Linked DNA regions of Homo sapiens. The protein of the gene in region 4 purifies or fractionates together with the protein of the main gene of each other region. This does not show direct contact. Each region holds a gene or a part of one and is shown on either strand. Other genes may lie near its edges.

Evidence for each region.
Region 1: the proteins of CBLL2 (region 4) and PPP2R2D purify together in Homo sapiens (affinity purification with mass spectrometry; 3 studies listed by BioGRID and IntAct, with this or other methods). This does not show direct contact.
Region 2: the proteins of CBLL2 (region 4) and SERTAD4 purify together in Homo sapiens (affinity purification with mass spectrometry; 3 studies listed by BioGRID and IntAct, with this or other methods). This does not show direct contact.
Region 3: the proteins of CBLL2 (region 4) and WTAP purify together in Homo sapiens (affinity purification with mass spectrometry; 3 studies listed by BioGRID and IntAct, with this or other methods). This does not show direct contact.

The regions. Positions count from the first base shown.
Region 1 is NC_000010.11:131,938,074-131,947,257, reverse strand, and holds part of PPP2R2D (serine/threonine-protein phosphatase 2A 55 kDa regulatory subunit B delta isoform), read right to left. Parts: coding exon of another isoform or gene 9,084-9,184; intron 9,062-9,083; exon of another isoform or gene 8,606-9,061; intron 7,228-8,605; coding exon 7,062-7,227; intron 6,677-7,061; coding exon 6,564-6,676; intron 6,491-6,563; exon of another isoform or gene 6,466-6,490; intron 3,291-6,465; coding exon 3,113-3,290; intron 1,964-3,112; coding exon 1,799-1,963; intron 1-1,798. UniProt on the Homo sapiens protein: Substrate-recognition subunit of protein phosphatase 2A (PP2A) that plays a key role in cell cycle by controlling mitosis entry and exit. Involved in chromosome clustering during late mitosis by mediating dephosphorylation of MKI67.
Region 2 is NC_000001.11:210,242,796-210,248,939, forward strand, and holds the end of SERTAD4 (SERTA domain-containing protein 4), read left to right. Parts: 3' UTR 1-3,004; coding exon of another isoform or gene 3,005-3,132; 3' UTR 3,133-3,460; downstream 3,461-6,144.
Region 3 is NC_000006.12:159,729,640-159,738,823, forward strand, and holds part of WTAP (pre-mRNA-splicing regulator WTAP), read left to right. Parts: intron 1-1,245; exon of another isoform or gene 1,246-1,326; intron 1,327-2,757; exon of another isoform or gene 2,758-2,792; intron 2,793-6,618; coding exon of another isoform or gene 6,619-6,626; coding exon 6,627-6,656; intron 6,657-9,184. UniProt on the Homo sapiens protein: Associated component of the WMM complex, a complex that mediates N6-methyladenosine (m6A) methylation of RNAs, a modification that plays a role in the efficiency of mRNA splicing and RNA processing.
Region 4 is NC_000023.11:22,268,630-22,274,961, reverse strand, and holds CBLL2 (E3 ubiquitin-protein ligase CBLL2), read right to left. Parts: upstream 2,050-6,332; 5' UTR 1,971-2,049; coding exon 693-1,970; 3' UTR 501-692; downstream 1-500. UniProt on the Homo sapiens protein: E3 ubiquitin ligase catalyzing the covalent attachment of ubiquitin moieties onto substrate proteins. May operate on tyrosine-phosphorylated SRC substrates.

The DNA.
Region 1 (9,184 bases), on a different chromosome or scaffold from region 4:
AATCTCTAGGCAAGGTCCTGGGCACTGCCATCTGTGGGAGCTCCTCGGGGCATCCTGATGTGTGCCCAGGTTCAGCACCACCGCATTCCTGTAGGAGTGTCTCCGCGTCCTCATGGCACCAGGCCCGAGCACGTGAAATTCTATCGCATACACATCACAGGAAGACACAAACAGCATTATATGGTCATGCAGACACAGCGGTCTGTGCCTCTAAGAAACTGCCTGCTTTTTGGAGGGTCGACAGTTTGTGGGTCTGCAGGAGTGACCACCTTGACTGGCAACGCTGTGGTCCTGATTTTAACCACCAAGACGGTCCCGCCGGTCAAAGCCAGCCAGCCAAGGTTTGTCTCCAATACTGAATATACACAAGCTCTACTGTGACAAAACTGGATTCCTATTTTCAGAAAGATCCTCCCGCCTCAACCTCCAGGGTAGCTGGGACCACAGGTGAGCACCACTGCACCTGGCTTGTGCTTCCTTGACCTGAAGCTGCTTTAGGTTTTTTCTCTTTTTTCTTGATGCAGGAGCCTGTGTTTGTCGGCTTAGCATCTGAAATTAACTTGAAGCCAGCTGTGCCGACGCCAAGCATTTACTCAAATAAATCACTCTGATGACAAATAGAACTGGAATCTGAAATTATTTACTCAAGAATTTTATGCTTAAGATACAGGCCAAATGCTACGAAACACTCATCCTCATCGCAGGAATTCTAGTAGAAATACGAATTCTTAAAAACACACTCAACCTCAGGAAAGAGAACAGGCGAAAAGGCTGCTGCACACGGTCCATGGGCACATTCCACCGAGGCACTGGGGGCGCCGCTGCACATGAGCAGCGGCTCAGTCTGGTGGGATTGACTGGCGGCTTCCCCATCAGAGGAAGTCACTGGACGTGTGTCTACCTGCTGGCACTGGAGGAAGGGTCAGCAATGTTTCAGGACACTGGGACACGCTGACTACAGTGCTCTATAAAGTCAAGCCCATTCTTTATGGCTAAAAATAAAAACAAAACCAGAACCTCCCTCACCTAAAAGGAGCTTGAAAGCTCACTGGATTAAAATGCTAGACTTTCAGCTAAGGGAAGTGGCTTCCAATCCAGCCAAGCTCAACATGAACAGGAGCTCATTCCAACAGCTGGGAATGGCCTCCTGTGTGCTGGCGGCCTCAGCCCAGGTCTCACGCACAGAGGCAGAGGCAACGGGTGGCTCTTGGCGGGACTCAGTGCTGGCAGCCTCTGAGGAGACACCCAGGCTCTGGGCAGAAGTGACCCCGCTTCTCGGTGGTGCCAAAAGCACACTCACCCTACAGCCATAAGCCTGTGGGAAGCATGACCTCGAGTTCCACTTATTAGCAGCAGCCTCTGACACAGCCACACTCGGACGGCCCCAGCAAAGGAGGGCTCCCCAGTTGTGCAAAGGCACTTGGGGAACAGGAAGAACTCTCTAAGTCTTTGGAGTGTCTGAAGAACAAGTGGCTCTAAATGAGATGCTTTAAAAGACGCCAGGCGTGACCAGGTGCGGTGACTCACACCTGTAATCCCAGCACTTTGGGAGGCCGAGGTAGGGGGATCACCTGAGGTCAGACCAGTCTGGTCAACATGGTGAAACCCTGTCTGTACTAAAAATACAAAAACTAGCTGGGCATGGTGGCACCTGCCTGTGGTCCCAGCTACTCGGGAGGCCGAGGCAGAAGACTTGCTGGAACCCGGGAGGCGGAGCTTGCCGTGAGCCGAGACTGTGTCACTGCACCGCAGCCTGGGTGACAGAGCCAGACTCCATCTCAACAACAGACGCACTTACACTTGGAGTGTCTGTCGCACAGGGCCGAGGAGCGCATGTCACACAGGCGGATGGTCCCTTTGCTACTGCTGTAGACGAACACGTTGCACTGGTGCGGGTGGAACTCGGCTGCAGTGATGACTTCGGTCAGCTCCTCCATGTTAGCAGGCTTGATGTCCACGATGTCTGGGAGTGCATGGTTAAGGCACAGTGCTCAGCTCAGCTGGTTGTTAATTAGTCTACATTCAGTCACGCGAAATAGGACGCCAAATAATCCACGCAGTGAGGTTTAAGGGATTAGCTATTAAGAAGGCTGGTTACACATCCCGAATTCCAAAGGAGCGCCTGGTAAGGGGATTGGGATGAGCACACTCAGACTACAGCAACGCCCCGGCCCAGGGGGAGACACAGACAAGCGAACACCGCTTTCATCTTGCTGCTATTATTAATGTTATACAGAAAGCCCTTAATAGCAAGATAGTACATACTTAATCATATAAATAGGAAAACCAAGCTAGTACCATCTGTGCAAAATCCCACACTCCCACACAAAACTACAACACAAGAATGCCGCCAAATTCCAAAAGATGCTGCTCTTCCTGACATGAAGAGCTTATTCTGTGTAGCTAGAACAGATCCAACAGAAATCCTATACAGAAATCCTTCAACTGAAAAAAATAAGAAAGGGCAGAATTCAGCTGTGGGCCAATTCAGACTAGCAGTCCCAGTTTCACCCTTCAAGCTGAAACAACTAAGAAAACCAACATACGACATGGAACCCCAGCTCAAGCCACTGGACAGCAGAGGGAGGACGGCAGGGACCCTGGAGAGGCTGCAGACGAAGCAAGCCCCATGCTCCCGGCTGCTGGCTGGAAAGGGGCCCATGTGAGGAGGGCTGGGGCCACCCAGACTGTGCACAGCCACAGAAGAACACAGGTTCTAACTGGAAGCTGCTGCTCAGATGGGTGATTAAACACTGCTCTAACCTAAGCCAGTATTTTCTATTATTCATTAGCAAATTTAGAAAAAAAAAAAGAACACATAATGTTGGTTTTTCAAATGTAGCCTATTTAAAACTGCCTCTGATTAAACCAGGCAGGCAGTGGACTTCAGGTAATTCCCATTATACAGATAACTTTTTCCCAAAGGTAGAAAGAAATTTGTATTTTTAGGGACAAACATTTCAAATCACAGAGAACTTACATCACAGGCTGCTGTGCAGTGATGGTATTTACAAGACTAGACTCCGAGATACAGGTGTATAAAGGGACGAGAGAAATTACTATCTAAAGAGCACCCTCGGGAAGACGCCAGTGTCCCTCTGAGGAAGGATACTAAAGCTTCTATCTGTGATTTCTAAGTGCCATAAATTAATTCTCAGGTCATCTGCAGAAAGATATGTTTCATGATCACTATTTACTGAAATGGAATTTATATGATATGTGTGAGCATTTGCAAAAATTCGCCGTGGACTCGCTTCTACCATAAGATCCATGGGCTTCAATATTGGGACCTAAAAATGGAAGGAAATAGGAATTCAAAACAAAGATCACAGCAGCACATAATTAGAACACTTATAGTAGATAACGAAAGAGGACAAGTTTATATTCATGGCTAAGTAATAATTCTGTACAGGCAATACCCCCAAATAACCAATTAGCAGAGTTATGAAAATATGCTACAAAATGGAATACTGTCTATTCCAAGTCTTCCCCTTGCTTCCATTACCGAGGTCGACATGTTCCTGCTGAAGAGAAGATCAGCTGGCAGGGTAACAAACTGCCCAGGCACCGAGGCCTGCGGCTCCCTCTCCTGTGTGTCCTCCAGTGGCCACACTGAGGCGCTGGACAGCAAAGTCCTCCTGGGTGGCTCAGCTGCACCCCTCCCTTTGTCCTCTCCTTGCAGCTAGATGCACACACCTCTTCTCACTGCACTAGGACTATGCTTCTCGGTGCAAACCCCACAAACCTCCACTGGCTCCAGGTACTGGCAGGGTGCACAGCAGGGTGCTGGGGAGCTGAGGATATTCCATTTCTTGGTCTGGGGCTGGCTACATGGGCATGTGCACCCTACAAACATTCATGGAGCTGGTCACTTATAGGGCAGATGTCTTATCTGGAGGTATGTATTATATATTACACTTCACTTGAGGTTAAAACAAAAAGTAGAAGGTACCTCCCGCCCCCATCTCTGTGTTGAGTGCTGTGGTCAGGGAGGCTTCCTAGGGAAGCCCAATTCGCACAGAAATAGAAAGGACAGAGAGGAGTGGGCGCTGGCTGCAGGCCGCCTATGGTCAGAGGTGAGAGCTCAGGCGTGAGGAATAGCATCACACATGAAAAAAGGAAAAAGGCCTGTGTCTCACTAACATCCAGCTGGAAGAAAAACATAAGCTTTAAAATCAAAACAAAAAATTAATGATAGTATTTTTTGTTATTCTTGTAATTAGAAACCAAAAGGGAGAGCCTTGAAAGCTTAGGGGAAAAAGAAAAGCTCTCAACTGAGTCTTGTCTGGCTGAATTCTGTAAAAAACCAACTTGGAAAAGTGTGTGTAGGGAGGCTTCCCTCATTTTAACCCAGGTAGTGCTGACCACACCCTTGGATTCTCTAGAGCAAGAAGAGTCAGTTCTACCAAGTTCAGGCTTAAAAACACACACCTACCCCAATCCTCTAACAAATTTCCCATTAATCAAAACATATGATAGCTGCAATACTTACAAAGATTCCTTCTTTTATTGAAAACATTTTAATTTGCATATAAAATAATTTGCTTTCATTTTTAGAGATGGGGTCTGGCTATGTTGCCCAGGCTGGTCTTTGAACTCCTGGGCTCAAGTGATCCTCCCATCTCGGTCTCCCAAAGTGCTGGGATTACAGGTATGAGCCACCATACCTGGCCAAGATTTCTTCTTTTAATTATATCCCTTTTCTGGCACTAAAATAATTTAAGAGCAAAAATTTAAAAACAGCAACATGTCTGACTCTTACCCAGTTAGGCTCAGATACATAAATAGCCCACTCTGAACTGTTAGAGAGGTAAGATCTCAAATACCGACCTAAGTCAATGTACAGAATTACCTGTCTGTGGTCTCTTCCCCATGCACCAACTAATGAAATAACTAGACTTCTCACACACCTTCAGTAGGGCCACCAATTATACCCGTTTTATTTAGGCTAAACCTACAAAAGCAGCCTTGAATAAAACCAAGACTGGGCCTAGTAAAGGCCTACTGTTCTCCCAAAATGAGCACGTGAGCTGATGGGTTGTGGCAGGGTCTGATCAGGAGGAACAGGGGTTTCTGAGGGTGGGGTGTGCACAGGTAACTGGGTGGGAGGTGGTGTTGGCTGCAGAAGAGATGGACAAGGCTGGAGGGGGTCAAGTGCCCACCCTCGGGGGTCCCATCACACTTCTACTTTAGGATCAGCAGTTTCATGATGATGGAACTGCACAACTCGTGTTACTGTCACTAAAAGTGATTTACACTAATTCAGGGGTGCAAAGGCGGCAGCACTGTGTATCAGACATCACCAACATTTTGGATCAAAACATCTTGGTTCAAATTAGGACCCTATAAACTAGATTTTCAGCAAATGCCACAGCCTTTCTCGCTTTGATGAACTCATAGGAAATACGGTGACAACATCGATGTGAGAAGTCTGAGGACACTCCTCCTGAGGAATGCACAACCCCAGGTGTAGCCACCCCACACGGCAAAGCTGGAGAAATGGCATCAGAACAGACCCAACATCACTCCCAGAGGCACATGTGTTAGGGAAAGGCTTCTGCGGTACAGCGTCCTCTGTAGCACTCTCCAAGACTAATGTGGAATGGGCTCACTCACTCAGTCTTCACTTGATAAACAATAGTGTAAAAGGGGCTGAAATCTCATTAAAAACCAACCAAACCACCCAACTCAACCACCCACCCCCCGCAACCAAACCACCCAACCACCCAAACAACCAACGGTTTTCCAATCTAGTAACGGCACCCCCTTGGGACCAGGCAGAGTTTCCTTCCAGGGGACACACCTCTGCACAGGTGCTGGTTTCTCACCAAGACACACCTGGGCTCGAGCCCAGTTTGCCGGACACCCTTCACCATGTTCCATCTAATTTAAGACAACATCAGTGGTGCGTAGCACCAGGCCAATTATAAGACATTGAGGTTTTGAGTTTTAGCCGGTTTCATAAATGTTAAAATATGAAAAAATTTAGGCATCAGAATTGATGAAATATGATCATTTCATACTACCAACAATGGAGCAAATAATTTAACAATTAAAAAAGTAATGATGCTCATGGATGGACAGGTGGAGAGTTCTGAACCATCAGCATCTGCCTAAACCAACCCCAAAGAAATTCCCCGAGAAGCGTCCTGAATGTACCTGTGGCCCACAGCTCATCTTTCGACCTGCAACCTGTGCTACTGCACCTGTGAGGTGTTCTGAATTTCATCTGAACTCCAACCTCCCAGGTGCTGTTCTGAACCTTCTGAGAGAAGGGTGGTTGCTATGTCCACAAAGATTTCTGCTGTAGAATTAAATATGAGTTTTCCCCTTAGTATTGCTGTGTTTCCTAAGGACCACATGTGACTTTCTGCCTTTGTGAAAACAGGAGAAAGACCTTGCTTTTAAACACACACATGAGTGCAAACGACTTTCAGGAATCACGAGGCAGACCTCACAGCAGACCTCACAGTACTCCACCGCGCAGCACTCTCCAGACAGCAGACTGAAACGTTTATTCTTAACTTCTCAACAGCATTGGATAAAGCAAAGGCAACGTGTACCCGTAGCGCCGTGATCCTAAATGGGTCTCGAAGTCTTCCATCTTCGTCTTTCAGGTTATAACCTTCTGCTCTTTTATCCCGTTCACTTATTTTCCATAATTTTATAGTTTTATCTGAAAATAAAAACCTCATTCTCCATATGAAAAGAAAAACTATAACATGCATCACTACTGTTTGAGTACTGGTATTAGAAAGCGGTGTGGTCCTATATTGGGTTATAAGCTATGGGGTCTCTGAACATGAATATTTCCAATTGGAGGTGTTTTGTACAATAAAGAAAGATGTGCAGACGTGCAGAGTAACAGCATAATAAAGTGCACGTGTGGTTTTTGTTGCATACTTTGAATTTTCAACCTATCACTTGCTACCCTAGATAACTTACCCTCCCCCCAAAATTTAAAGCAGGAATAACTTCTAAAATAAAAAGGAATCTACACACACACAGAAAATTAAAAATAAAAAACTAAATCAAACAGCCACTTAGAACACAATTCTTACCATTTGTAGACAGTAGAAAATGAGCAGCATTCTGTTGTGGTAACCACCTAATTTTATTAATTTTTTCCTCAATTTCTAGACTTTTCAAATAGTCAAACTCCGGTTCATGACTTTGAAAGGTGCTGTAAACATTATATTCTCCCCTAGAATGAGGGCGGCTTTTATTCTGCAAGGAAACATGAGAGCTGTTTTAATGAACAAAGCACAGTGTAGAGAAAATTTCAGTACTATAAATTTGAATATCAAATGACCATACATATTTTTTAAAGCTAAAAAATCCTGGCTCAAAAAAATCTCAGATGAAACTCAGGGAAAAAAAAAAAAAAAAGAACGAACTTGATTTCCGACTCTTCGACTCCACTTCTAGGTATGCATCTGGAGCAGGTCTGCCGAATGCAGCCTTGCTGTATTTTCTGGAGCAGGTCTGTCAAATGCAGCCTGCCGTATTTTCTGAAGCAGGCCTGCCGAATGCAGCCTGCCGTATTTTCTGGAGCAGGTCTGCCGAATTCAGCCTGTCGAATGTAGCCTGCTGTGTTTTCTGGAGCAGGTCTGCTGAATGCAGCCTGCCGTATTTTCTGAAGCAGGTCTGCCAAACGCAGCCTGCCGTGTTCTCTGGAGCAGGTCTGCCAAATACAGCCTGCCGTATTTTCTGGAGCAGGTCTGCCGAATGCAGCCTGCCGTGTTTTCTGGAGCAGGTCTGCCGAATGCAGCCTGCCGTGTTTTCTGGAGCAGGTCTGCCGAATGCAGCCTGCCGTGTTTTCTGGAGCAGGTCTGCCGAATGCAGCCTGCCGTGTTTTCTGGAGCAGGTCTGCCGAATGCAGCCTGCCGTGTTTTCTGGAGCAGGTCTGCCGAATGCAGCCTGCCGTGTTTTCTGGAGCAGGTCTGCCGAATGCAGCCTGCCGTGTTTTCTGGAGCAGGTCTGCCGAATGCAGCCTGCCGTGTTTTCTGGAGCAGGTCTGCCGAATGCAGCCTGCCGTGTTTTCTGGAGCAGGTCTGCCGAATGCAGCCTGCCGTGTTTTCTGGAGCAGGTCTGCCGAATGCAGCCTGCCGTGTTTTCTGGAGCAGGTCTGCCGAATGCAGCCTGCCGTGTTTTCTGGAGCAGGTCTGCTGAATGCAGCCTGCCGTATTTAAGGCAAGTGTTAGTGGAACACAGTCAGGCCCATGTGTGCACATACTGTCTCTGGCTGCTTCTGCACCATCTGGGTAGAGGTGAGTGGTTGTGAAAAGGCCGCATGAGCTATAGAGGCAAAAATGTTTGCAATCTGGCCCTGGAGAGAAAGTGTCTGCTGAGTCTGCTCTAGAGGAGAGCCAGCACGGGCCTGAGGAGCGTGACACAGCGATGTGGCAGCTCCAACACAGTGGTAGTGAACCAGACGCCACACATATGCCAACCAGAGGCGAAGGGCAACAGTAAGCCACAGGGCCATGCAGGGACCACCACGAAGCCGCTGAGATAAATGAGCCAGCACAGACAACCGCACAGTGCTGCACAAGTGAAGCAGGCTGCACAGGTGCCCAGAGTGAGGTGCTGCTTACGTACGTACAGAACAAGTCTGTTACAGAAGTGGAGAAACATGCTTGGGAAGACATATGCCATCTTCAAAATCATGAGCAACTCTGGGAAGCTAGAGGGAGAGTGAAAAAGACCAGGAGGAAAGTAGCAGGCTGAAATGGGGAGGGGACAACAGGAGCTTCATCTGTATCCCGAGCATTCTCCTTCCTTTGATGAAGGGATAACCTCTGGGTGGTGGGTTTGCAGGTACATCTATATTAACCTCTGAATCTTCTGTATGCCCTAAGTGAAATTTTCTATTAAGTATTAAATATTTCATAATTCAAAATCAAGGACGCCAGTACTTTCATTCTTGCTCTATAACCAATATCTAATATCTTAGGTGTTTAACACTTTAGTACATATGCTAAAGGAATGGAACTAAACGAACTTTCAAGTCTAAACAGATGTTCCTTGATATTTCCAATCTGATCAAGTATCAGGAGAAGACATCCCAAGAAGCTACCCACACCCGCACTGCTGCAGAGTCCAATGTGCAGGGCATTCCTTCCACCGAAGCCTCCACGGGCAGAAGCTGAGCGCCTCGCCTGCCCCGCGTCGCTGCACTGAG
Region 2 (6,144 bases), on a different chromosome or scaffold from region 4:
ACAGGGAGCTAGATGAAATGGCTTAATGGTGCTGTTAAGTATTTGTACCTAACAGTCTTGTGTGACAGATGAAAATAGGATGTAACATAATGAAACACACCTGTCTAGGGGCGGCAATCAACAGTCTTACACAGAGAGGGTATTCCCTGCAAGTTTCTGGCTTGCCTGTGATGGGTGATGAGGCTTTTAGAGAGGTGTTATACAGGGCGATTTTTGGTGCCTTACTTTTATCTTAATTTTTGCCAATGTGAAAATTAAGGATAAATCAGAGTTACAGCAGGGATTTAACAAACAGGACAAAAAAAAAAAAAAAAAAAAAACCACAGGGTGGATCAATATGGTTTGGAAACTGTTAACTTTGAACTATTGTGTTCAGCTTTTGATTCGACATCTCTATTCTTTATTTTTGATGCCCAATTGCTTTTGGATTCGCCGTTTTTTCAATAGGGATGGAGGAAATGAGAGAGAGAGCTGTTAGAAAGCAGCACGGGCTGCTCGAGCTTTTCTATGGCAACTGTGTGTTGCTGGGGTTGGGGTTTTCTGGGTTTTGGGTTGTTTTGTTTTGTTTTCTTGTCCAATGAAGTTCACGAACCAGTGGCATGCATTATACTTTTCTCTGTTTTGCATCATTTCACTTGTTTAGATTATAAAAGCATGTGGGTTTTTATATATGAACTTTGCTGTTGATTAAGAAGCACAATGTTAATAAATGATGTGGTGATCAATAAGGTTTATCTTAAAGAATGTAAAGACTTTAGGTTTTTGAAAGTTATTTTGGAGAAATGGGACTTAATCTATAATAGTTACTATGTATTTGGTCTACATTTTCCAAATAATATCTTTAACTTGTACATTTGAAAAGTGTTCAGAGTGGCCCTCCTACCATCCTTCCTTCCACTCCAGCCAACTCTTCCTGCTAAACTGTATTCCAGTTTCCAAGTTTACTAATTGACTTGGGCCTGTTCAAATAATACTTCACAGAAACCAAATGCCAAACGGAGGAAATAAGTAAGCCCTCCCAGTTTCTCCAAGATAAAGCTTTTTTTATTATTGCTATTAATATTAAATATAGGTCTCATTCATACAGTGTATGAGTAGGATCATTTGGACAATTGTCCACAAAGACCAATTTTTAAAACATTTTCTTGTGTTATAGTTAAATAGTCTAGTAATGTTTTGTCCTTTATTTTCAATATTTGATAAACATTTGATGTTCAAAACTTAGCTAATAGATGCTTGTATATGAATGTGTTGTAATAAAGTGAGGTTTTCTTGATATATATTTATTAAGATGATAAAAATTCATTAAGTTTTTTAAATTTTAATGGCTATTGGCTATGTTTCTCTTTTCCATTATTCTCTCTCCTTTAAAAAACTCAAAACATCTAGAAACTGTAGTGGATAGTGGCCACACAGGAGTTTTCTAAATTAAAGAGTATTTTAAAATGCCAATCTGACAGGTGTTTCAGAATGATCCTAGTTCGTAAGTTTAAGTTTCTATTGATTAAGAAGCACAATGTTAATAGATGATGTGGTGATCAATAAGGTTATGTCTGAAAGAATGTAAAGATTTTCCTTTCTGGAGTGTCTCTGAAAAAAATTGTATAACACGAAGCCATAAATACTGAATCTTAGCTGATTGCATTATGAACTGTCAAACTGTGAAGATGACCCATATGTAAACAGTTATAACAGCTACAGATTATTGCTAGTAGCATTCCATACAATTCCATATTAATGTTCTTAGGAGCTAATATTTGATAAAGGGGAAAGCTAGTTAAAAACTAATTAATTTGTCAAATGTAGCATTCTTATTATGAGTGTAATATCTCATGGAGATTTAAATATGAACGAAAGGACTTATCCTTCTGCTTTTTAAAAGCCCCAGCATTACTAGATAGTGTTTTTCTTGAAGGCCAAAGCTGTAAAATGACAAAGTTGGTGATTTTCAGCAGCACTCACCTGAGCTGTGAGCGCCTGCACCTGTTCGGTAGAACCCACTAGAATCACTTCTCTGTAGGATAAGTGATGCCTTTGAATCCAGCAGCATAAAAATCTGTTCTTTTTAGTCATCAAGTTTTTGTTTCCAGGATATTTCTAGCATTGCAAAAAAAAATTTCTTCACCAAACACTAATTCCTAAACACCCATCCAAACCACAAAAATTCTCTTGTTAGTAGGCGAGAGTGCTAGGACTTCCTGTGTTCACCTCCCATGCACCCAGCATTGTCTTTTATGCATGAGATATTCCATTAGATTTTCCTAGAGTGGCCAGGACACCCTTCATAGTAAGTTATATCTCTTAACTGGATTCTATAGTTTTATCTCGAGCAACTTGGAAAAGCTAAGACATCCTCCACCCACACTGGTATCTACGCGCCTGGAAGCTGCACCTTCTCTCATTGCTGTGCTCTGCTTTAAGGAAAACCTGATATGACAGAATCAAGACTATTAAAAGATAAATGAGGGGAAATCTTCATTTAAGAAAGTTGCCTTGCTCCCCAAGAGTGCCTTTAATTGCTATTCCCCTAGGCATCTGGGTGCATATCATTAATGAAATCATTAACCTTTGTCTCTGGTCCTTCCTTTCTAAAAACAGCAGATTATAGAAGGTGGTCTGGCAAAGGGATTTTCAAAGGGCAAAAGTCTCATCATCATCTTTCCACTCAAAATCCTATTATTCTACATTTCACTTTGCAGGGGTCCTAGGGACAGGATTGCAGGGACAGGGGACATGGGAGGAAGACAGAAAAATTCAAAACCAGCAGATGCCACTACCTGGCAATGAATTGAAAATTAGGGGAAAGCATCTTTGGCGTGACCTTTTATTAAGACAACAGAAATTTAGAACATTTTACATGCTTCTTTGTTAAATGGTGAAGCAAGGGAATGAAAGTATTTATTTTTAGAGCTCATAGTTAACTCCATCAAGACATGGCTACCCACCCCTCCAGTTATGAACTTGTATTACAGCTCCACTTGGTGACTTCCTTTCTGTGTATCAGGAGCAGAGCAGAGGACAACTTGTAGAAGACATGACCATTAAGAGACATCAACTTCGCAACAAATATAAGACAAGGATACAAGGATTCCTATGTGATGCAGCTAGGTTTTTATATCCTTCTAACAAATGGTGAGCAGGAGACTTTTTTGGAAATAATTAGTTGTGAAATTCCATTTTTCTGACAGCCCCTTAAATTTGAAGTTATTTCATTTGTAGTTAAGGTTATCACATCCCTGCCAATTTTACTAGATTTTTTCAGAGACAAGCATTCAGCATGGCATTAGTAATGATGGTTTAAACTAGGTGCAGAACTGTCCCATGAAGAGAAGAATGATATCAGTATTTAAATAATAAAAGAAGAGACAATGTATGGTTTATAGTGATTCATTTTAAGATTGCTGTATTTTGATTTTGTGGTTTAAAATAAATGCATTAAGGATCTTTTAAGTTACTACAAGATGCCTCTCTGTTGCTTTCTTAGCTATAGTGCCTAAGCAAGGTATATTATCTTGACATGGCTAAAATGTCTCAATTCTATGTGATATAGCTACACGACCTGGGGTGAAAGAGTTACTAGTTTGGAGATTATTTCCCAGCCTTGGGTACCTGCCATATTTGAGCTGGGAGAACTCACTTAGGAAAAGCACTTGCAAAGATGTAAGTTATGAACACTTGAATCTCGCATCCTGCCATAAAGTGCATCAGCAAGTGACTTTAATAAAACATGCTGTTTAAAATAGTCTGTAATTTCCTGTTTCTGCATTTCCCTTCAGTATCTGTGACAGGCTGAAGAACGATGACTAAACGAAGGGAATTTACACAAGCTAGTCTGGTGGTGTTTGCAAACCATCGCCATGAGCTTCATCTTCTTTGGTAAACAATCCGCTGGTGGGCTGTCTATGGTTGGTTTCTTTTCTTTGTTGTTGATCCAATTTGTTAACTTTGAAAATGCAAACTACTTATTCACAGTGTGGAAACACCTGCTTTTGACCACAATGAAACTGATAGAATGTATGGCGATGTATTAGTTGTTTCTCATGAAATTTCTTATATTTCTCAACCCCATTTCTATGACTCTTCTCTTGATTTAAAAATATGAAAATCGAATAAAATCTTGTGGGGAGGACCTACATATAAAAGAACTTGCAGAGATGTAAGTTATGATCTTGCTTTGTGCCAAGATCTCCAAGACAATAGGCAAATATCAGAACTTTGGGGGAAAGGGATCTAACGTACCCTAGTCTTGTGCTGTGCAGACCAGCCTGGCCTTCGGCAGGCATTACCTCTATCCAGATCTTTCCATGGAAGCAGCTGAGTCCAGGCATCAGGCATATGATTCTCCACTGCCTCCTCTGGTCAGCACACACATGAACCCATCTTTGATACTTCTAGACGCAGTGCTTTTTCTTCAGATACCCTCTAAAGTGACTGCAATGAACTAAGCTCTCAGATGTGGTAAGACCCTGGTATCCTCTCAGCCAAGAGATGAGTAGATGTCTCTGAAATACACTTGGCACAGCACTCAGATATCTATACCATCTTCAAAACTCACAACATCCCTGTGTGCACAATAAGCAAAAGATAGAGAATGACAGGCTATGCAAGGGATTTGCGCAAAAGGTTGGGGAGTTGATCTCTGGTCCAGTACACTGAAGGAAATCTGAGAAATACAGTGCTCCCTGTACACTGCAGAGTGAATCCACTCTCTTTAAGGAAAAGTCTAAAGACTGCAAGGGAAAGAAGACAGAATTTTTTGTTTCTTTGTCAAACCTCTTTAGGAAAACAGAAAAAAACATTTCAGGGACTAAAGGATTGTTTTAAATGTTTTTGCAGGAAGAGAGAAATGGCTTGTCTGCCCTTTCTGGAGCTGGGAGGGGTTCTCCTTGTTCTCCATGTCCTTAGATGCTGTGCTTTTCAATAAACCCACCAAACTGTATTTGTGAACAGTTATGGTCATTAGCCCAAGGAATCTCTCTCCTGTTCAGTTTAGGCACAGAGGTTGTGGGTTTCTCACAAGACTGGAGTATAGAAGAGGGTTAAGAGTAGGGGGTTTGGAGTTAGACTGCCTGGATGAAAATCTCAGCTCTGCCAGGGTAGCTGTGCAAGCTTGGCCTTGGCCAACAAGCCACTTTACCTCCTAGTGCCTCAGTTTACTCATCTGTAAAATGGAGCAGCACACATTATCCACCTCATCAGGTTGTCAGGATTAAAGGTTTTAATATCAGGGAAGTGACTCAACATTGCCTGGGTGTACATTATGGGTTTGCAGTGAACAAGCCTCCATGACTTCTCCATTACTGTCCTTGAATGCCCGGCAAGTGGAACCCAACCGTGCCAGATCCTCCTTTTGGTGGAAAGTATTCAGCCTCTTTGGTTCTGTACAGCAAGCTTGAAGTTAAACAGGGGGATGGTATGAAACCTGGGGTCCCAGGGCCCTTAGCTATGAAAGTCGTCATTGGTGACCTTGAGATATGTTTAGTATTTAAAATACCAAATCATAAAATCTTCTGAAAGTGGTTGCACAGGCTAACCCCACATCAGATTTCCTTACCTTTGGCTGGAATTAAATCAGCTCCAGGCTGTCACAAACTGAGAAGAAACTCTGACTGGGAAAACGAAGGCATTATCCTTAATAAATACAATTTGTTTGTCAGACAGAATCTTTCAGAACATTGGCTATGTGAAGGGAATAAGAGGTGTCCCTTACAAATGGAAAGATTAAAAACCACTAACCTCTGACTCATCTCTAGGATTTGCCAAAGTTCAAGTTTATTTAGTTGTTGTATCAAATAATTTTCTTAAACCTAGCTTTTACTCAGAAAAAGTACAGTATTAAGTTAGGAAAAAAAGGGGGGGCAGGCGCGGCAGCTCATGCCTGCTGGTAATCCCAGCACTTTGGGAGGCCAAGGCGGATGGATCACTTGAGGTTAAGAGTTCAAGACCAGCCTGGTCAACATGGTGAAACCCCGTGTCTACTAAAAATACAAAAGTTAGCCGGGCCTGTGTGGTGGGGGGCGCCTTTAATCCCAGCTACTCGGGAGGCCAAGGTAGGAGAATTGCTTGAACCTCAGAGGCAGAGGTTGCAGTGAGCCTAGATGGATCCACTGCATACAGCCTGGATGAGGAAGTGAGACTCTGTCT
Region 3 (9,184 bases), on a different chromosome or scaffold from region 4:
AATTATCTTTTTGCTGACTTGGAAACTGCAAGAGTTAAAAGACTTGCTTGGAATCACACATGGCAGATAGAGGATAAGGAAAAGATGGCCTTTCAGTTCCTCATCAGTACCTTGCTACTACAGTGTCTGCAGATTGGTGTCTTACATTCAGCTATGATTTGTTCGCCAAGGTACCGTGTCTTCTTACTGAAGTTGTTTTGGCTGGCGCTTGCCTCCGTTCAGAGGGAACTGAGTTACCTAACTTTATGATGCTAAGAGCCAGGAAGGTACTGGGATCTGGGATGCTAGGCACCTAACCAGTCTAGACTGAACTCCATACTAAGCTGTTTTTCTGTGTTAAGGCATCAAGAGTAGATGGTGGTCCTGATTTTCTGAGATATATTATCTCTGAATTATCTACATAAATAACTGAAACTTTTATGTAATTTTAAAACTAGTCAATCATGTTACCACCCTTTTGAGGGGCACCAAATTTGAGACCCTTACCCCCAATTTATTAATTAATAGCTGTTTTAATCACCTAATAGCTGATCACCTAATGACTAACAGTCATTTTCATCCTGGAAAATGGGAACTAACTTTGACTTTGAAAAGTGCTGTTATTAAATGTGTGATTCATAAGAACTGAACATATTTTCTTTATTATTTTCCTTCAGGATTCAACTTTAATTGACTCCAAATGATGTTATGGTCATTCTGTTTTTCTGATACGAGAATAGATTGTTCTGAGAACCTAGAATATTCATTGCCTTTATGAATCTAGAATTGACTTTAAATTTAGGTTATTGTGTTTGTCATTTGCGCTAAAAAAAAAATTGCCCTGGGGAATACCAAACTTCTCGGTACATTCGTGTGGTGTGAAAGTCAAAATTGCCAATTAGGTTCTATTTTGACCAAATAGTTGAATGTTGTAGACAGTTGTAAATTTTGAACCTGTTCTAATTTGCCTTTTGCCAGATGGCGCATTTAACTTTGTGGCATATCATCGACTTTCAAGGAAAGATTTACTTTTCATCAGATTAAAGTTGAGGAAGGATTTTCTTTCTAAATACTGAGGCTCTGAATTTCCCAAGTTGGATACCCCAGACAGCTAGAGTGATCTTAAAAGTGACTCTGAGAGTTGACTTAGGAAGTGTAGACATTTATCCAAAATCTGTATTTACTCCTGACTTACATTACAAATACAGAGTTTTATTTTTAAAGAAAATTTCAATAAAAAGCACCATTTAATTAAAATCTACTCACCATCAAACTTTTTAAAAAGAACATAAGCCAATGTCAGGAGTTGGAGACCAGCCTGGCCAACATAGTGAAACGCTGTCTCTACTAGAAAAAAAAAAGAAATACAAAAATTAGCTGGGCATGGTGGTGCGTGCCTGTAGTTCCAGCTCCTTGGGAGGCTGAGGCAGTAGAATCGCTTGAACCCGGGAGGCGGAGGTTGCAGTGAGCCCAGATCATGCCCGTGCACTCCAGCCTGGGCAACAGAGAGAGACTACGTCTCAAAAAAAAGAAAAAAAGAAAAGAAATTTCAATAATTGCAGGCTGGGCATGGTGGCTCACAACTGTAGTCCCAGCACTTTTGGAGGCCCAAGCAGGAGGATTCCTGAGCCCAGGAGTTCAAGACCAGCCTGGGCAACATAGCAAGACCTCATCTCTACTACCAAGAAAAAAAAAACAAATTAGCTGGGCGTGGTGGTTCATGCCTGTGATCCCAGCTACAAAGGAGGCTGAGGCAAGAGGATCAGTTGAGCCCAAGAGATGGAGGCTGCAGTGAGCTGTGATCGAGTCACTGCACTCCAGCCTGGGCGACAGAGTGAGACTCTGTCTCAAAAAAAGAGAGGAAAAAAAGAAAATTTAAGTAACTTCTGTTTAGAATCCTAAATATTGGAGATGCCAAAGAATTCTGCAGTAAGTGTTAGAAACAGTCGGGAGGACAGTATGATTATTATCCTCAACCTGTGGATTATCTCTTCAGGTTTTTCAAGAAACACTGAGTCTGTGTTTTTGATGGGGAGAAGAAACTATTAATTAAATGCCCATTTTGTGCCAGTTACCATGCTAAAGATTAATGTCTGTCTTCAGAAATAGCACAGTATTTGGGCCCTGGTTGTGGTAATTCTTTTTGAGATGGGGAAACTGAGGTGCAGAGATTTTGCTACTTTTGTATTTGCAAAGTTGACAACCTGTTTCAGAATACCAAGGTTATCAGAACTTTCTTCATGTGTTTCTCAGTCCTTTTAATGCCCTTTAAAAACAGATTATCATCTCATTTTTTGCTAAGCTTACTGTTAATTTTATTTTAGTGGAATAAGAATATGGATACCTGTCTTTAAGAAGAGAGTAAGCAAGTAAACCTAGGGAAAGTATCAGGTTGTAGAACCACATACCGATGATCCTTGCCAAAATCCTGGCATAGGAATTTGAACCCTGGTGTATGAAAAGTCTGCCCTTTGCATACTCAGGTTTCGCATCCCGTGAATGCTGTATTTTTGATCCGAGTACTGTATTTTTTAATCTGAGTTTGATTGAAAAAAATCCAAATATAAATGGACCCATGCAGCTAAAACCTGGGTTGGTCAAGGACCAACTATAATAACTTTTATAAGCTGGAATTTATATTGAACAGCATCCATGATACTTTAGTATTACAACTAAAGTTGTACATACTGAGTAGGTAGGATGCCTTAGTAACTAGATAAAAGGTATACCACCTAGCCATAGTGATAAATATAGCTGTTTTCAAACTGTCATTCACAGATCTCTACCACAGTACCTGTTACGTGAAGTTCCTGGTTGGTTCTCAAAATTTTATGTTCGTATATACATAGATACAGATACTGATATACCGGTTAAATATGTACAGCTCAAATAGCTAAAATTGTCTTTAAGATTTTTTAAATTAAAAATATTATTGGCCGGGCGCAGTAGCTTACACCTGTAATCCCAACACTTTGGGAGGCCAAAGCAGGTGGATTACCTGAGGTGAGGAGTTCGAGACCAGCCTGGTCAACATGGTGAAACTAAAAATACAAAAATTAGCCGGGCGTGGTGGCAGGCACCTGTAATCTCAGCTACTCTGGAGGCTGAGGCAGGAGAATCGCTTGAATCCAGGCGGTGGAGGTTGCAGTGAGCCGAGATCGCGCCATTGCACTCCAGCCTGGGCAACAGAGACCGGGCGCAGGGGGAGGGGGAGTGTCTCTGTCTGCTTCTTTCTCTCTCTCTCTCTCTCTCTCTGTATATATATATAGTGTGTGTGTGTGTGTGTGTGTGTGTGTGTGTAAAATTGATATTTAGCTCCAGACAAATGGGAAATTACAAGGAAATGCCAGATTTGATATCTGGGTTCTAAGACTTTGCAGCCTAATGCATGTGTCATGCTAAAATAGAAGTAGTTAGACATGTGGAGTTAAATATGGTGATGGTTTCTGAGATGATTAAAATGACTGCCACCAGGTTAAGGTAGTTACAAAGCAGCTTTCTGTAATGGCAGCAGAGATAATAAACTGGGCAACAAGGGAGGAACCAATTTAAAGAAAAAAAGAATAATATACATTTTATATCATAGTAATATGGTTTATGTCTTCATAGGACAGAGTGACTTGCTCAGTGAAACAGACTGTATACAATTAGCTCAGAAACAAATACTGAGGTTTTTATCTGTTTGCTGTATCCCTTGAGAAAGATTAAAGAGGGAAGGCAGGGTGCAGTGGCTCACGCCTGTAATGCCAGCACTTTGGGAGGCCAAGGCAGTTGGATTGCTTGCGCCCAGGAGTTCGAGACCAGCCTGGGCAGCATGGCGAAACCCTGTCTCTACCAAAAAAAATTACAAAAAATTAACTGGGTGTGGTGGCACATGCCTGTAGTCCCAGGTACTCGGGAGGCTGAGGTGGGAGGATCACTTGAGCCTGGGAGGTCAAGATTGCAGTGAGCCATCATCGCACCACTGCACTGTGGTCTAGGTGACAGAGCGAGACTGTCTCAAAAAAAAAAAAAAGCCCAGCACGCTGGCTCATGCCTGTAGTCCCAGCACTTGGGAGGCTGAGGTGGGCAGATCACCTGAGGTCGGGATTTCCAGACCACCCTGACCAACATGGAGAAACCCCGTCTCTACTAAAAATACAAGGAAGTTAGCCGGGCGTGGTGGCGCATGCCTGTAATCCCAGCTACTTGGGAGGCTGAGGCAGGAGAATTGCTTGAACCCAGGAGGCGGAGGTTGCGGTGAGCCGAGATCGCGCCGTTGCACTCCACCCCGGGCAACAAGAGCGAAACTCCATCTCCAAAAAAAAAGATTAAACAGAGAAAGAAGCAAGCCAGTAATCTAAGATCAATTTATGATTTTTCCTCTAAATTCTGCTTTCTTCAACACAATTTACTTAATCTGAAAACCAGGGTTTAATAACAGTATGATTAGAATGTTTCATTTATAAAGTGGAGTTGAGATTGTACGTAGTATAAAACATGCTGTTGGAAGATTATCTCCTTTTGAGGAATCTCAAAATCAAGTGGGAGAAATCAAGTAGTCTTGGTGTGTGTGTGTTTTGTTTGTTTGTTTTAATGAGAGACAGGGTCTTACCACATTGCCCGGGCTCGGTTCAAACTCCTAGGCTCAAGCAGCTCTCCTGCCTCAGCCTCCCAAAGTGCTGGGATTACAAGTGTGAGCCACCACACCAGCCTCAAGTAGCTTTCGAGATGATGCCACAGCACTCCAGCCTGGCAACAGAGTGAGACTCCATCTCAAAAAAAAAAAAAAAAATTCAGTTTAACATACCAAGCTTTTGGTCAAATTTCTAGTAGTTTAGAATTTATAATAAGTATGGGTAATTAAAATAAACCATAAACACTTTAAAGTAAGGGAAGATTCATGAGTATACTATTAGAAATAATAACTAGGGCTGGGCGTGATCCTTCCACAGGTAGTTCTAGCTACTTGGGAGGCTGAGATGAGAGTATGACTTGAGCCCAAGAGTTCAAGACTAGCCTGGGCACTATGGTGGGTCCCCATCTCTTAAGAAAGAAAGAATAGGAAAAACTAAATTAGTATAAGAACTAATTACTTAATTTGTATAAGTTATGAATATGCCAAATGCAATTTAGATGCTTTTTCAAAAGAGCACTGGTACTCAGAACCCTGATTCAATTTTTTAATCCTCATAGAATTTTTATATAAAGATTTTATGTTTGTCAGGTTAGCTCTTCATGTCGTATACTTTTTTTTCCAACCTTGTATTTTAATGTGGTGTTTATGTTTATTACACATTTTTTCTTTGTCTTTTTTTTGTGTGTGGATTTGTAGTTTAATGAATAATACCTGCTATTAGCATTCGTTCTAAAAAACAGCATAATAAAGTGTTCCCTACTTGAATTCATTAACCTATCTTTGAAACAGGGTTAAGTGAATTTTGTATAATAAAGAAGCTAATTTTGAGATACAAAATATTTGGCATAAAATTAAATACTGTAGGAATATTTTTATTAAGGTGTGACATACATGTGTATGTGAGTTTTTGTTGTTTGTTTGTTTGAGATGGAGTCTCTGTTGCCCAGGCTGGAATGCAGTGGCGCGCCATCTCGGCTCACTGCAACCTCCGCCTCCCAGGTTCAGGCGATTCCTGCCTCAGTCTCCCTAGTAGCTGGGATTACAGGCGTGTGCCACTACGCCGGGCTAATTTTTTTAATTTTTTGGTAGAGACCGAGTTTCACCATGTTGGCCAGACTTGTCTTGAACTTCTGACCTCAAGTGATCCACCCACCAGCCTCCCAAAATGCTGAGATTACAGTCGTGAGCCATCACGCCCAACCAGTGTAACATATATTTTAAAATATGTAATAGGATGGGCGTGGTGGTTCATTCCTGTAATCCCAGCACTTTGGGAGGCCAAGGCGGACGGGTTGCAATGTCAGGAGTTCGAGACCAGCCTGACCAACACGGTGAAACCCCGTCTCTACTAAAAATACAAAAATGAGCCAGGTGTGGTGGCACGCACCTGTAGTCCCAGCTATTTAGGGGGCTGAGGCAGGAGAATTGCTTGAACCCTGGAGGCGGAGGTTGCAGTGACCTGAGATCGCGCCACTGCACTCCATCCTGGGCGACAGAGTGAGACTGTGTCTCAAAAAAAATAAAAATAAAATATATAATATATCTAAAAAACTATTGGGCAGTAGTAAATTATGGCTGTGGTAGGTACTACCTTACTTTAACAACATAATGCTATAAAAGGAAAGACTTAAACTGGTATTACCCTTTTATAGTCCCTTAGCAACATGCGTAGGATACTACTTGAGGTCATTATATTTCTCTTCACCCTTTATGGCGACATCAAATGATTTGAATGGCTGATCAGCTTTTTTACGAGGGAATTTGTAAAAACTACCCAATAACTCTAATGATGGAAGATGTTAACAAAGGAAGATCTGGGTACAGAGTATATAGGAACTCTGTAATATCTTTGCCACTTTTTTGTAAATCTAAAACTATTTTAAAATTGTTTATTTAAATTCTAATTATTCAACAGTAATTTAGTTCACTAATAAATTGATTTGAAAGAGTCAGTATTTTTTATTCCTACTTTCACTGGAAGAAAATAAATTGAACTTGTTTTCCGCAACTTTTTTTTTTAGGATTCAAGATGACCAACGAAGAACCTCTTCCCAAGAAGGTATGGGTTTTGGTTTTGGGTTTTTTTGTTTTGTTTTGGGTTTTTTGGGGGCTTTTTTAAGCACTTTAAAAAAAAATAGACTTGAAGGGATTATCGTTGTTTGCTTATTTTTCATTTCTTTGCCTTTATAACAATAATAGCATTGGAGTTGTACAGTGTGCCAGATATTGTATCTTATATCCAGTATATTTTTTAGAATATTTTCAGATTTTGGAAAACTTTAGTTATAATAATATTCCCATGGTCTACTCTTAATGTTCATTATGTGAATATTTCCAGGTCTACTCTTAATGTTCATTATGTAAATATTTCCAGGTACATATATACAAATAATGTCAAAAATGGACATTATGAGTATATTATTATTCTTTTCCTAGTGTAAATCCCTTTGATTGTAATTAAAAACTACTTTATTAAAAAAATGGTTATAGCTAATTTTCAAATTCTACCTTTTTCTCTGAAGTTTTGTTGTCTAGTCTCAAATCTCCCCCTGTTGTGCATTCCTACCTTGAGTTTAATTACTCTTACATACACACACATACACACACACAGTGGCTGTTATAAAAGAGGTAACATCGTCTCTAGGAGGAATTTGTGATTCAATTGGGAAAGCTTACTAAACTTAATATTTAAGTGAATAATTTAGATATTACAGAAGTTTCCTATTGTGGAGTCAGATTACTCATTAAATGAATAAAGGATTGTATTATGCTTTCATAATCTGAGAATTACTGTGTGCTCCCTCTGGTACCCTTTGATTTTCCTCCCTTGGAACAGGGTCTTGCTCTCTTGCCCAGGTTGGAGTGCAGTGGTGCAATCTTGGCTTACTGCAGTCTCCGCCTCCTGGGCTCAAGCGATCATCCCACCTCGGCCTCCTGAGTATCTGGGGGCTACAAGTACGTGCCACCACGCCCAGCTAATTTTTGTATTTCTTGTAGAGATGGGGTTTTACCATGTTGCCCAGGCTGGTCTCGAACTCCCGGGCTCAAGAGATAGCCACCTGCCTCTGCCTTCCAAAGTGCTGGGATAATAGGCATGAGCTGCCTCTGGCAGCCTTTCAATATGTTACATTATAATAGTTCCCTCGTTCCATTTTATGGTAATACTATTTTACTGGTTAGTATTATAATTTGAAACATTTTTAAGGAAAAAAATTTAAGTGTCTTGTAAGGGAATACTAATAAAGCCTTTATTTTATTTTTATTTTTTATTTTCTGAGACAGAGTCTCACTCTGTTGCCCATGCTGGAGTGCAGTGGTACAATCTTGGCTCATTGTGGCCTCATACCCCAGCTTATGCGATCCTCCCACCTTTGCCCCCCAAAGTAGCTCAGACTACAGGTGTGCCACTACGCCTGGCTAATTTTTGTATTTTTTGGTAGAGATGGGGTTTTGCCATGTTACCCAGGCTGATCTTGAACTCCCGAGTTCAAGATATACTCCCGCCTCAGTCTCCCAAAGTGCAGGAGGCATGAGCCACAATGCCCAGCCAAAGCCTTAATTTTATACTGAGGTAGGAGAGGTATCTCACCTTTACAGCCTTTATTTGGTGTAGTGAATATACTGTTTCTCAATTTTTGAAGCATGTTAGCTTATGCCCTTCTTTCAGCTTTTTGTTTTGAAATAATTATAGATTCATAGGAAGTTGCAAATAAATGTACAGAGAGGTTCTGTGCAACTTTCACTGAGCCTGCTTCATTGTTAACACCTTGCGTGACTAGCAGACATCTCTAATAACTGTGAAAATCAGGGAATTGACATTGGTACAATCCACAGAGCTTATTCACATTTCACGTTATACTAGCACTGTTATTGGGGGAAGTGGGGAAGAGCTATATGCACTATTATCATGTCTAGCTTTGTGTAACCATCATTAATCAAGATACATATCTGAACTATCACCATAAAGCTTCATCGAGTTATTCTTTTATAGCCACATCTACCCCGTCCCTCTCCATGCCTGACCCCTGGCAACCACTAATTTATCTCCATTTGTATAATTGTTACTTCAGAGTGTTATATAAATGTAATCATGTAGTATGCATCTTTTTGAGACTATTTTTTTTCCTTCCACTTAGCACAGTTTCCTTAAGGCTTATACAAATTGTTTCATGTATCAGTAGTCCTGTTTCTTTTTATTGCTTAAAGTGTTCCATGGTGTGGCTGTATGATAGTTCAATCATTTGCCTGTTAAAGGACATTTGGATAGTTTTCAGTTTTTTAGCTTTTACAAGTAAAGCTGCTTGCATGTTTTCATTTCTTTGAGATACATGTTTAAGAGTGCAACTGCTGAGTTATATGGCACATTCATTTTTAGTTGTATTAATAAAAGGAACTGCCATACTTCTTCAGATACCATTTTTATATTCTCACCTGCAGTGTAGGAAACTTCAGTTTCTCTGAATCCTCACCAGCGTTTGGTGTTGCCACTAATTTTTATTTTAGCCATTCTAATCAGTGTGTGGTGATACCTGGGGTTTTAATGTGCATTTTCCTAATGATGATGCCCATTGTTAAGATACCAAATAG
Region 4 (6,332 bases):
ATGTGATTTGAACGATTCTGTAAAAAAAAAAAAAAAAGCATTAACAAGTAACATTGTCCCCACTAGCTTGGAGCCTACAGATACAATTACTTTGGCCATATCTTTCCAAATGATTTAGTAATGCTTTTTAACATTGCAAACTTAAATCTATCATAGTACTGGAATTCTGATATATTTTGGTGCTTCTGCGGCTGCCTAAAAATGAAAAGGCATCCAAACGAAATGCACTATACACTTATTGTACCTTAAAATTTCAGTTCCTAAAATGTGAAATAATTATCTACCATTTAGCTGTCTGCTTTAACTGTACATTGTAGTAGATTTTTACCTCTAGGATTTGTATTGTACTTTGGGAAATCAGTGGTAAAATATGTTTAAGAAACAGCATGTGACTATGCTTGAGTTCACATAAAATAGCATTTTTACAGCTGTATTGAAATTTAACCCTTTTACACAGGTTAACATATCACCAAAAAATAAAAAAATAAAAACCACAATACTTTTGAAAATGTAACATTGCATATTTATTTCAGGAAATCGTCAGAGGTCACCTTTAGGTCAATTTACCACACCAGAGGAACAAAGTTGTTCAACTCCAGCTCTGCTGAACTGAGCCGCTTATCCACAGTACAGTATAGAACTTGAAGGTTTTTTTCCCATCAGGTCTTCAGTTCCAAATACTGTTATCATCCTTAATACCGTCTATGTCTTCTCTGGTGTGAATGATGTGATCGACCATGTAGGGTTGAAGGAGGTGGACTCCGCGTTGGTGGACAAGGTGACAGTCGTTTCCATGCAGGCCACCTTCTATGATCCATTGCATCTGTTTGTGTAAACTGAGGGCTCAAGGTTTCTTGATTTTCGGTGAACTGAGGTAAAATGTTAAGGTTATAATGGTGAGAAGCAAATTCACTTGCAGATGGATTACCATTTTGAGACTGGGGAGCACGTAGTGGAGGAGAATTCATATCAGGTGGCACCTTTACAATAATATATCCAGATGATGGATCGTAGGTCGTGGTTAGAGCTGGCACTTGGCTACGAACCGAGTTAGGAGTAACTACATCCTGAGGAGGATATGGCATTTGATGGTTTACTGGTGATGATGGAGATGGAGGTGGCGCATAATGCTGTTTCTGAGGTATAATATGATGAGGGGACGATACCGCTGGTTGACTTTGACACTCAGGATAATAGTCGGGAGGTGTTGGCTTCTTAGCACCAGAATCTGAGTTATTCTGAATATGATCAACTGTTAAATTGCCATGTTTTCTCGTAAAAATACTAACGGTTTCCCACTGGATGGGAAAAGGCAGACTTAGAGATAGTTCTGGGGGAGGAGCCTGGATATCCTTATGTGGCTGATTATGTTGCTCTTGTAGCATATGTTGCACAGACGGTAGTGACACCATGGTGTGCTGTTCTGGTGGAATATAGCTTAGATGGTCCCTGTCTTGCAGTCTTTTAGGGATGTCAGAGATTTCAGTTTGTGGCGGAGCAATATGAGGACGAACTTTTTCAAGCGAAGCGCTGGTAACTTGTTTTCGAGCTCTCTTATGGCGGCGTTTGATATGAGCCTGTAAGCTTTTCTGAGACAAGTATGTTCTCTTGCACTGCTGAACAATACTACACATGAAGACAGAACCTCGTTTATGCGCCTCAATTCTCAGCACAGGATAACGACAGCGCGGACATACTTTATATCCGACTTTGTCATATAAATTAGCACAGTGATAGCAAAAAGCATGCTTGCACGGAATTATTCGCCCATAGATTTTAATAGGCAAATCACATTTGTCACAGAAATGAATTGGTAAATCATCCTTTTCACCTATGATGTTTATCTTAATGTCCCCCCAACGGTAACCAGGAATTTTTTTCTTTTTTCTCACCAGTTTAACTCCTTTAGAGTAGTACTTCCCTTCTTTGTTATATTCACATTCTTGTTCACCAGCAGGCATCTTGTTCATATTCCTTGGAGTTCAGACACATATTTAGGTTTGTCTACTTCCTCAAAAATGACGTTTAAAGGAATTCTTCTGCTAACGTGAAGGCCACCCAACGATCCAGAACTATGAGTGCCTAGTAACCCATTATCAACGTCATTAGGATCCAAGTTTCGGCTCACAAGGGACCGGGAGTCATGTGCCAGTAACACGTGCGCATTACAACGCATGTGCACCATCTTCCCCAGCCTAGGAGGCGAAAGTGCGATCCGATGCCTCCCCAACCCTCCACTGCTTTGACGTTTAAGGGCTTCCTTCTCTCCTCACCTACCCTGTCCCACCACTCTAGTGAGGGAATTTGGGCAGAGAAAGAAAAAGCTTCAGTGTTGAGGTTGCTGATGCTGCTCTTCAGTACTCAAAGAGAAAGGGGTCTTCATGGAAACAGAAACTGATGGGCGTGGGGAATAAATTCCCAGCAGGCCCTGCAGAGCTTTGCCTTCTAGGACTGACTTATTTTTATCCTATTGCATTTTTGTGAACTACCTTAAATCACTCATTGGAATAAGATAGGATGATATGTCTGTGTGTGTGCATGTATATATACATACACACAAAATACACATACCTTTTAAGATTTTGTGATTTCACGATACAGTAAGTTTAAAATCACCTTTGTCTGGAAGAAGGGAGCATTACATTTATCTCGTCAAGGAAAAATCATGTAAAAGGCAGTGAATAGTGTCAGGCGCCTTGGCTCACTCCTGTAATCCCAGCACTTTGGAAGGCCGAGGCAGGCAGATCGTTTGAGGCCAGGAGTTCCAGACCAGCCTGGCCAACATGGTGAAAACCCATCTCCACTAAAAATACAAGAATTAGCTAGGCATGGTGGCACGCGCCTGTAATCTCAGCTACTCAGGAGGCAGGAGAATCGCTTGAGCGTGGGAGGCAGAGGTTGCAGTGAGCTGAGATCGCGTCACTGCACTCCAGCCTGGGCGACAGAGTGAGACTCTGTCTCAAAAAAAAAAAAAAAAAAAAAAAAAAAAAAAAAAAAAAAACAGGAGTGAATAGATGGTAACTTCACTGGGCTAGACATTTTTTAGACATTTGCTGTTCTTGCTTAATTTTAAAAAGGGTTATGGGTATTTAGCCCACATTTCCTCACATCTTACCTTGCCTCTAAGTACAAACTGGATCGTAAAAACAGCAACACACCATATTTTTCTGCCTCCACTCCACCCATAATTGTGGCACCTCTATTCTCCTGAATGTGCAGACATTCACCCTTTTAGCTTCGTTGGCTGTCAACCCCTACTCCGTGCCCTCCCCTAAAATACTAGAAAAACATCACTGATCCATCAAAGTGAAGTATCTTATGAGACTTACTGCAGTATGAGAGAACTCTGCCTTAATGGTGTCTAGGCAGTGTCTCAGAGGGGAAATGACAGGATAGGTTATTAGGGACTAAGTTGGGTGGTTTCAGGGCGGGTCTTGCAAGGCAGGCCTCTAATTGGGATTGGGTAGATTTTGTGACGTAATAGCTGTAGATTGGTGGGCATAGCAGGAGGAGAATATTGAAGCAAGTTTTGATGGGGAAGGTGGTATTCTTGTTAAGTAAACTCTTTTAGTTGGTTTACAATTTTAATTTTCAGGAAAAAGTATTTCCTGGAGCAAGTAGCTAAGTTTGCTTATTCTCAACATGGATTAATATGGGAACAGAAAACTATTCCCACGTCTGTTATTGTTTTACACAGCGACAGAGAATTATGTTGGTTTCAGTACTCAGTTACCACATAGCAGTGATCATTTTCCTTTTCCCTGGCTCTGGCTTGTTGGGTTGTTGACTCTTTTTTTTTTTTTTTTTTTTTTTTTTTTCCTTCCAAGTAGATGGGACTATAGGCATGTGCCACCACACCTGGCTAATTTTTGTATTTTTAGTAGAGACGGGGTTTCACCACGTTGGCCGGGCTGGTCTCAAACTCCTGACTTCAGGTGATCCACCCACCTCGGCCTTCCAAAGTGGTGAGATTACAGGCGTGAGCCACCGCGCCTGGCCAAGTTGTTGACTCTTGACTTCACTAATGGTGAAAACGCAACAATGCCCCAATAACCACCAAAGGCACCAGTGTCCATCAATATGCAAAGTCACAATTGCCCCAGCAAAGACACAATACTCACTGAAGGGGCCACTGAGTCCAAGAAGGTAAATGGACTTCTGTGCTCCCTTTCATTTCACTCTATTACATGGCCTACAAAACATTTCAGGTTTATTCTCCCCAGTGTCTTAAAGAGATTATTCTGAAATCATTCCTTCGCTTGCTCTTAGTTATTGCTCCTCTACCAAGGACTCGGGTTATAAGCTCATGGTGGCTAGTTTAAATTTAAATGAACAGTGCCCCTTGCCTCTGATACTGTCCCCTAGTTCTTGACCTTCTCAATATCCCATCAATGCTACTCTGTCTTAGGGTTCGTTCATTCACAGGAAGCAACTTCATCCCTCGTGCAAACAAATTCCTTATGGGCTCCTCTCATGGAGTCTCCAAACATACCTAACCTACCTAAACACTAAGGCCAATGCATGTTTTTCTCTCAAACCATTATATGTTGATTTAAGTTTTAGATCATTTGAATTTCTGTTGGCTTAGAAACTTTTAAAGCGGTACTGTATTTTTTTTTTTTTTTTTTGGAGATGAAGTTTTGCTCTTGTTGCCCAGGCTGGAGTGCAATGGCGCGATCTCAGCTCACCGCAACCTCCACTTCCCGGGTTCAAGCGATTCTTCTGCCTCAGCCTCCCGATTAGCTGGGATTACGGGCATGTGCCACCACTCCCGGCTAATTTTGTATTTTTAGTAGAGACAGAGTTTCTCCTTGTTGGTTGGTCAGGCTGGTCTCGAACTCCCGACCTCAGGCGATCTGCCAGCCTCGGCCTCCCAAAGTGCTGGGATTACAGACGTGAGCTAGCATGCCTGGCCGGTACTGTATTTTCTATAAGCCAAAGTGGTTCTTACAAAAGCATGGATGTTCTGCCCTATTATAAATAGTGAACCAGAATTCTGAGCAAAAACTAAAACAGCTTTAAAACATATGCGAATGTTCCTGTTTTAAAATTACAGTTACTCACTTGCCAGGCTCTTTATGAGGGTTCAATATTTTTTTAGTGATGTGCATATAATTCAAATGCCATGAATACAAAGGGAAAAATCTGTCAGATATAACGTCCATAACTTATTTTCTCTTTCCTTGAAGCAGTGTTAATTTTTTTTTGTCAAAACTGAGACATTTTTCACGTGGCAGAATTCTATCCTTACCCATGACCCTGAGTGAAAAAAGTCAGCTTCTTTTCCCAGTTGACTACATTTGCATTTCTCGCTCATTGGGTCTGCTTCAAATTGATTTAGAAATAAATTAAAAGTTCAGCTTTTGAGTAATGAAAGCATGCTTTTCCATAGACAAGCGATGTTAGCTTCTAGCTCCATACCCAGCAACTGTCCTGGTTCAGCACTTCCAATATCTCTGCTTGGAGTGTTTGCTTGTTTATAGCTGAGAAACCCGATGTGAAAGTTCTTAGTAAATATTATTTGGTGAAATTGTTGATAAGAAAAAGGATATTGACCTCCCATTTATCCCTATCAGATTTAAGAAACTATCTTGCTACACTCAGAGAGCCGTCTTTACAAATTGATCCTTATTTAGTACCTTTAAACAAAAAATTAAATGGGCTTCCATTCAGCCACCTCCTTTAGGGCAAAGAGGTGAAAGAAGGCCCTTTCCTTCAATCTCATTGCTCTTAAAAGTTGCTAGACTTACATTCAATTGACAGAAGGGAGATTCAGTGTCTGTCAGCCTATAACAGTGATTGGATAGAAAAAGGTTTGGGTTTGGAGCTTTTGAAATAGCTTGAATTCGTGGAGGCCTGCTTGAGCTCAGCTTCCCCTCAAAAAAAAATCCAAATGAGGTTGACGATGAAGAATTATGGACTACACAATGGAGGAGTATCAATGTGCACAATTAATACAAGGAAACAGGTTGAGACATCTCCGTTTAAGCTACATGCCATCTGGCCTAGAAGCAGTCATTCTACCCGAGTGACATCAAAGGTCAGCAGGAGTGAGAGCCGTATGTCCCGCTGCCAGGCTCCTGGATTTTATTTCTCATTTAAGAGAAACTGATCTGTCATTCCTCTGGCTCCTGTGGGCTTTAAATTCACATAATCAACATATCACTGCCAGAGACTTAGTAATAGCTGAGGCAGTTTAAAGGTGAGTGGAGAATAATCGTGCTCCCAAGCCAGATGCCTTCAGTTCTGCAAGGAAATAAAAAGTCCATCTCGGGTTCCAAAAAGGAAGGCAAATTGCCCTGTTTGAAGGAGACCTCACCTCTCCTCCCAAA